Linked DNA regions of Homo sapiens. The protein of the gene in region 1 purifies or fractionates together with the protein of each later gene. This does not show direct contact. Each region holds a gene or a part of one and is shown on either strand. Other genes may lie near its edges.

Evidence for each region.
Region 2: the proteins of RTF2 (region 1) and CTPS1 fractionate together in Homo sapiens (co-fractionation; one large-scale study listed by BioGRID). This does not show direct contact.

What each region holds. Positions count from the first base shown.
Region 1 is NC_000020.11:56,516,784-56,520,093, forward strand, and holds the end of RTF2 (replication termination factor 2), read left to right. Parts: intron 1-151; coding exon 152-206; intron 207-322; coding exon 323-418; intron 419-1,303; coding exon 1,304-1,482; 3' UTR 1,483-2,666; downstream 2,667-3,310. UniProt on the Homo sapiens protein: Replication termination factor which is a component of the elongating replisome. Required for ATR pathway signaling upon DNA damage and has a positive activity during DNA replication.
Region 2 is NC_000001.11:41,007,145-41,010,792, forward strand, and holds part of CTPS1 (CTP synthase 1), read left to right. Parts: intron 1-304; coding exon 305-401; intron 402-1,514; coding exon 1,515-1,570; exon of another isoform or gene 1,571-1,649; coding exon 1,650-1,746; exon of another isoform or gene 1,747-1,751; intron 1,752-2,300; coding exon 2,301-2,445; intron 2,446-3,016; coding exon 3,017-3,101; 3' UTR 3,102-3,110; exon of another isoform or gene 3,111-3,114; intron 3,115-3,648. UniProt on the Homo sapiens protein: This enzyme is involved in the de novo synthesis of CTP, a precursor of DNA, RNA and phospholipids. Catalyzes the ATP-dependent amination of UTP to CTP with either L-glutamine or ammonia as a source of nitrogen.

The sequences.
Region 1 (3,310 bases):
GAACATCAAAAGCCTTCTTCAGAGTGACTGTCTGTCTCATGTGACTAGCATCGGTCAGTCAGACAGGGCACCCGGGACAATGGGCAGCCACACTGACGCTGAAGTGGAGTGAATCTGAGCACAGCCTCCAACATTCTCTATCTTTTTGTAGAAAACAAAGAAACCCAAGGCAGCAGAGTCTGTTTCAAAACCAGATGTCAGTGAAGGTAAGATCCTTCAAGAGATCCTTATTTTAGCAAAATGCGACTCTAGGGCAGTCTGCTAATATGTTCATGCTTTGTTTTGCATTGTTTTTGCTTTGCCTACTTTGTTTCTTTTACAGAAGCCCCAGGGCCATCAAAAGTTAAGACAGGGAAGCCTGAAGAAGCCAGCCTTGATTCTAGAGAGAAGAAAACCAACTTGGCTCCCAAAAGCACAGGTGGGTCCTGTTGTAGCTACAGGGAGCTGTTTCGAGAAGGCTGGAAACCCAGGTGGCCGAGTCCAGGTTTCACTGGAGTGGGTGGATGGGAAGCCCAAGCCTGTCCTATGTCATGTCTCTAGAGAGTGCACTGAACTCTCTTTAGGGGGGTAACTAAGAAATATTGAACACACCCTCATCAGGAGCCGTGGCAGGAGTGATGGGGTCTGGGCACAAATGCTGGTTGTTTAGATTCCTGTCGAGTAAGTGCTTGGTGCCAAGCAAAAGAGGTTGCGCTGAGAACTGGCTCAGATGTTGCACAGAGACTGTCAGATGGACTGTGGCTCAGGGCCTGCGGGGAATGCCCCCAGTTTCTTTACTCTTGGGGCTTTCATGGGCTCCACGTGTGGCTCTCAGAGTCCCCTCTCTGCTGCCTCTTGACCAAGGATCAGTTTCTCCTAAAACTCACTCTCTGTAACTCAAAGAAAATACCATTTATTTCACAAAAAGAAAAATACAGATTCATTGTTAAGAGTGTGTGATCTTGTGCTCTAAGTAGCATCCAGGGTGGCTGACAGGCTCCCATCCCGGCTCTACATGGGACAGCCACTCAGGTTCCTGTGCCCATTTCCTCCCCTGGAACGCAGGCCCTGCCTCATCAGGACAATCTAAGTCATTCACGGGGCTGGGACCAGTGTCTGCGACAGAGCAAGACAGTAAATGATAGATGTGTTGTGCTGTGTCTGCTTTGCTGGAGTTGGCAATTAAGATGACGTCCGCCAGCACTCACACAGCCAGCAAGAGAACGTCTGGGACAGAGTGACTGATGGGCTTCCCTTCTGAGGATGCGAAGTTTAGAATCATCTTTATCCCAACCCTGACAGTTTTGGCTCTTCATTTTTCTAGCAATGAATGAGAGCTCTTCTGGAAAAGCTGGGAAGCCTCCGTGTGGAGCCACAAAGAGGTCCATCGCTGACAGTGAAGAATCGGAGGCCTACAAGTCCCTCTTTACCACTCACAGCTCCGCCAAGCGCTCCAAGGAGGAGTCTGCCCACTGGGTCACCCACACGTCCTACTGCTTCTGAAGCCCGCACTGCCACCGCTCCTGCCCCAGAAGGTTGTTTAGTTTCCACGTAGGCAGGTCGCTTTGTGCCTCTGAGTGCGCTGCTGTGTGTTCTCTCTATAGTTCTGTGTCATAAAGCTGTCCTGGCCAGCCTTCAAGCTGGTGTGGCCACTCTTGATGTGAGGCGTGTCGGTTCCAGGGGGGACATGGGAGGGGCTGCACAGTGGCCCGAGGTCATGCTTGCTTCCACCTGCAGGTGCATTTGGTCCTTTCCATGGCCAGGAAGCCCTGTGGGCTGCACTTTTTATGCTTGCAGTAACAAGAGACTCCAGAGTCCTCACCGGTGCAGAGTTGGCACATATTAATTAACTAAAATTCTAATGATCTTGCTACCAGCAATAAATCAAGTAGGCCAAGTGAAACTGGGCTTTAAAAAGGATGGATTTCAAATACACTGTGCCCACTAGAAGCTTCGAAGGGCCTCGTCCCTCTGCTACAGCCCTGGGAGGAGCCAGGATCCTTGTTGGTCTAGCTAAATACTGTTAGGGGAGTGTGCCCCATCTCATCATTTCGAAGATAGCAGAGTCATAGTTGGGCACCCAGTGATTGGGTTCAAAAATAAAGCTGGTCTGCCTCTTCTCTCCTCTGTGTTTTTATCTTTTCTACCTTCTGCTCATGCTTGGGTAAGAACATTGCAGCCGTTGCATTGGTGATTACAGGAGTCATTCCATGAAGTCAGAAGAACCCACCCTTCTCTCCTCCAGCAGATGGTAAAGGGAGAATCGTACCCAAAAAGAGGTGCATTTTATCTGCCTATAAGTTGTGTTGACGTCAATAGCTAGTGAAACTTCTCATGAGACTCCTAATGAAGAACCAAGAGCCACAGGCCTCTGCGTGGCTTTCTGCACACGGTGGTATGACTGAGATAGTGACTGGTTCTCTATACAGACCCCGGGGCCCTGGGTTTCCTTCAGAAGCAGAAGGAGCTGTGGGAGGTGAATGGTGGGAGGTGAACAGGCAGGTTCTGTGGGAGACACAGACACGTGGGCAGAACTCCAGGGAGAGGCCAGCAAGGGAGAACCATGTGTGGCCCTGCTTTTTCTCAAACCCTGTGTGGTTCCCGGCTTCACAGTTGATGGGAAGGTTTGGCCCCAAGGATATTTTGACATTGTGAGTATAGAGCATTTTAATAAAAATTAAGTGATGCGTTTTTGTCATGGACTTTTCCAGAACAAACCTGGATTAGCCATTTAATTTCCCCAATTTTCTATACAGCCAAACTCAACCATTTTCTCATTGTTTTTATTTCCCCCTTTTTTTTTTTTTTTTTTTTTAAATTTTGAAACAGGGTCTCACTCTGTCATCCAGGCTGGAGTGCAGTGGCATGATCATGGCTCACCATAGCCTTGACCTCCTGGGCTCAGGTGATCCACCCCCCTCAGCCTCCCGAGTAGCTGGGATTATAGGTGCGCACTACCGCACCCGGCTAATTTTGCTATTTTTTGTAGAGATGAGGTTTCGCCATGTTGCACAGGCTGGTCTTAAACTTCTGGGACCAAGCAATCTGCCCGCCTCGGCCTTCCAAAGTGCTGGGATTACAGGCGTGAGCCACGCTGCCTGGGCCCCCTTTTCTTTTAATGACCATTATTTTTACCAGGTTCGGTTTTCTGAATGTTAGCCTGAATCAGTTTTATTTTGCATTGAATGTATTGACTGTGTCCAGTTTTTTCTGGTAACTGAGTCACAGCATCCTCAACACAAAAATTACAGCATCTCAAAGTCCTCTGCTTTGGGCCTCTCTGAAATAAACAGGCTGTGGGCCTCCCTCCAGCTGCCCTCAGGACCATCCA
Region 2 (3,648 bases), on another chromosome or scaffold:
TGTATCAGTCTTTCTAAGGAAGTGATGCTTACCGTCCACAGTGCTGGGGCGGGACTAGCCTGAGGAGGGGCTGCTGTGGTCCTGTCTGCAGATCAGGAGGACAGGCTGAAGGACGGAGCCTCCACCCAACCGAGGTTACAAATGCCAACTGGGAGGCATTTTCTTCTGTGACAAAATGTCTCATAAGGAAAGCCTGGAGAATTAGAGCTTACTTACAAGCCTTTGCCACCCACTCAGCGAGGGAGGTTTCTCTCTAGCGGAAGCAGAGTTCTGTAGTTGGTGTCTGTTTTCTGAACATCTCCAGGTCGTAGACATGCCAGAACACAACCCAGGGCAGATGGGCGGAACCATGAGGCTGGGCAAGAGGAGAACCCTGTTCCAGACCAAGAACTCAGTCATGAGTAAGAGCTGCCTCACGCTGGCCCAGCCTTTGGCTCTGCGTGCCCAGGACGCGTGTCTTAGGGTGATGCTGTGGCTTCGAGGAGCAGGCTGGCTTTTTTTGGTTTCGTTCTTGCTTTTGAAGTTCATTCTTTCCTCTCTTATTCATACCCTTTTAGGATGCACTGTGATAGCCATAGAAGCAGTGTGGGTCTTAGAAAGGACACTGGCAGTGCAGTCAGACTCCTAGGCATGGGCGCCTCAACAGAATGAGGCAGTGAGGTTACATTCATCCTTATCGGTTACTTTCCTATTAAGACCAGCCATATCAATTGCTGATGTTTGGCAATTTTTGTCACACAAAGATGGCAATTTCATATGATTCAGCCTAAGTAGATTCTGTTCTAATAAAGTACTAATAGATGCTGAAGGTTTAGGGTAGTTTTCGGAGGAAAATAGTTAAGAAAATGACTATTACACAGATTTCCTTCTTGTCTACTGGGAAAATTCTGCCTTTACTGTATTAGCAGAGGCACCCTTGTGTCTGTCTGGGCGTTCTGTAGCAGCATAGCTGGAGTCACTTGAGTATCGGATCTTTCTCTTACCAACTCTGATGTTCTGTGGATTTGGGGATCTCGAGGCAACTGTGAAATGAGTCAGTAGAGCAGCCCGTTCGCAAATGTCCAGCTTGTTCACATGCAGCCACTGAGGGCTGATGACCTTTGATGACCATGATTGGAACTGAATGATCATCAGAGGTCATCTGTGCAGCTCTTAAAATGCCTCCCATCCTGCCACGTTCCCAGGGCCTTGCCGTTTCGTACATCCTGATTTGCTTTCCAAGGCAGTTTTCTAGCAGCAAAGTGCCCATACTTTGCAATCATGTGTTTGAGGGTGGTGGTGAGAGTCTTGTTTCTGTTACAGCTTTCTGTAGTGTTGTCAGAAAGAGTCAAAAGCCCAAGAATTAGTCTAAACTGTGTTGTTAAGAGCAGGTGACCTTAGCAGATTCATAGAAATAGCCCTCAAAAGACCTGGCTGTGTGGATGATGAAAAGTAAAGCAGGAAGGAGGATGTCTTTGTGAACGCATCATCCTGTGAGATAAAGTTCTTTACATACAGCCCGTTTGTTTTGCCAGGGAAACTCTATGGAGACGCAGACTACTTGGAAGAGAGGCACCGCCACCGATTTGAGGTGAGGATTCCAGCTTGCTGGTACTCTGGAAAGATAGTGAGCTGAGAGACCAGCAGAATTATTTTTCATGCCTCAACAGGTGAATCCAGTCTGGAAAAAGTGTTTGGAAGAACAAGGCTTGAAGTTTGTTGGCCAAGATGTTGAAGGAGAGAGAATGGAAATTGTGGAGTTAGAAGGTGATTATTCGGGCAGTTTTATTTAATGGAAAACTTAGTAAAGTTTTCTTGGCATATGGGAAAATATAAAAATGTTATCTTGTTGCTCCTGACCTAACAGAATTAGGAAGCAGCACTGTCTCATGAGGGAAGGGGTCTTGATAAACATGGGGTCTGGACTCTAGAAACTTCTTTCTGGTACATGGCCTTCCTCGGGGAGCCATTTAACTTCTGGCCGCAGTTTCTCCTTCTCCAAAATGCTTGGAGTTGGTACTAAAGCCACTTCAGCCCTCTCCTGAACCGCAAGACTCAGTCTACAGAAATCCTGGGAGCCAGGGTCTTGGGCGGGACCCTGGACAGGAGGCCTTCAGCCAGGAGGGGACAGCACAAACCGTGCTGAGAAAGGGTATCAGATCACTCATGCTTTGAGGTTCCCTTTATCTAGATTCAAATGAGAAAGTCATTTTCAAATTATTTTAGGGCCTATGGAAACAAACATTTAAGCAGATTTTGTTCTTTTACACTTTGTGCATAACCTTCACAATGAAGCTGTTTCTTTTGAATCTCTATTTCAGATCATCCCTTTTTTGTTGGGGTTCAGTACCACCCTGAGTTCCTGTCCAGGCCTATCAAGCCCTCCCCACCATACTTTGGCCTCCTCCTGGCCTCTGTGGGGCGGCTCTCACATTACCTCCAGAAAGGCTGCAGGCTCTCACCCAGGTAGGCGCACTCTTTGCTTCAGTAATCCATTAGTCTTCTCTAGTCCTTTAGGTGGTCGCTGATTCATTACAGCAACACGTCACAGTCAGTCATAAGAAAAAAAAGCCACAGGCGCCTGGGGTGAAAGTTTCCTCTCCTTTCCCGGAGCTTTCTCACGGTGTTTCCCTGGCATATTGGCCAGGTCCCCCTTTCTGCAGCATCTGAGCTCTGGTGGTGCTGACCAGATCACACTTGGCGTAGGACCCTCTGGTCCATGTTAAGGGGAACTAGTTTTTCCTGGGAAGTAAGCCACAATGGGTAGGTTTATGTCCCATTGCCACCTTTATCCAGAACCAGTACTCAGAGTTGGTGGTAGGGTGTGTGACTGAAGTATAAATGGAATGTATATCTTTTGTAGCTAGAAGAAGGAAATCTTTCTGCAGTTTCATGTTAAATATATTATGTAGCAAACAGTCTTTGTGATTCCTGCCATGTGCAGGCAAGTGTCCCTGTAGGAACCGTGGTTACAAAAACAGGGACGTAAAGTGAGTTTTTGGTGGGAGATGATGCGTAAACCATCTGAATTCTACAGGGACACCTATAGTGACAGGAGTGGAAGCAGCTCCCCTGACTCTGAAATCACCGAACTGAAGTTTCCATCAATAAATCATGACTGATCTTGTAGCGTAAGTGGTACTTTAAAGTTTTAGTTTTTAAAAACATGGTGATAACACACTGCGATTGCAAGAATATCATGGAAGTTTAGGGCTGAAAATTTTTATCTGCCAGGAATGAAAGTGGTGAGGTCTTGAATATAATCCAGAGGTTGAGAGAGAAAAGAAAGTAGTGAGGTCATTGTGGGTATCAAATGGGCAGCCCTTCCTCCAAGTTGCAGTGCACCTCCCAGTCCTGCCCTGGGGATGACAGCTTGGGGAGCATGGTCACTGGGCAGTTGTCTCAATACTGATTACTACATTCTGGTGCCAGTCTGACCAGTTCTGGGGCGGGGAAGGGGAGGGTCTGAATTCTTAGACCCTATTGTTTGATGTAGCTGTAAATTTTGGAGATCTTGAAGGAAGGGACAGATACAACAATGTGGCACTTGTCATTTCTGCAGAGCCTCAGGTTTTCATCAGGAAGTACTTTAAAACTGACACTGCTTAGAGAACTTTTTTTTGTTGATTGCTGCTTATTCTGGAATTCCTTCAAAGTTGGAACAATTGC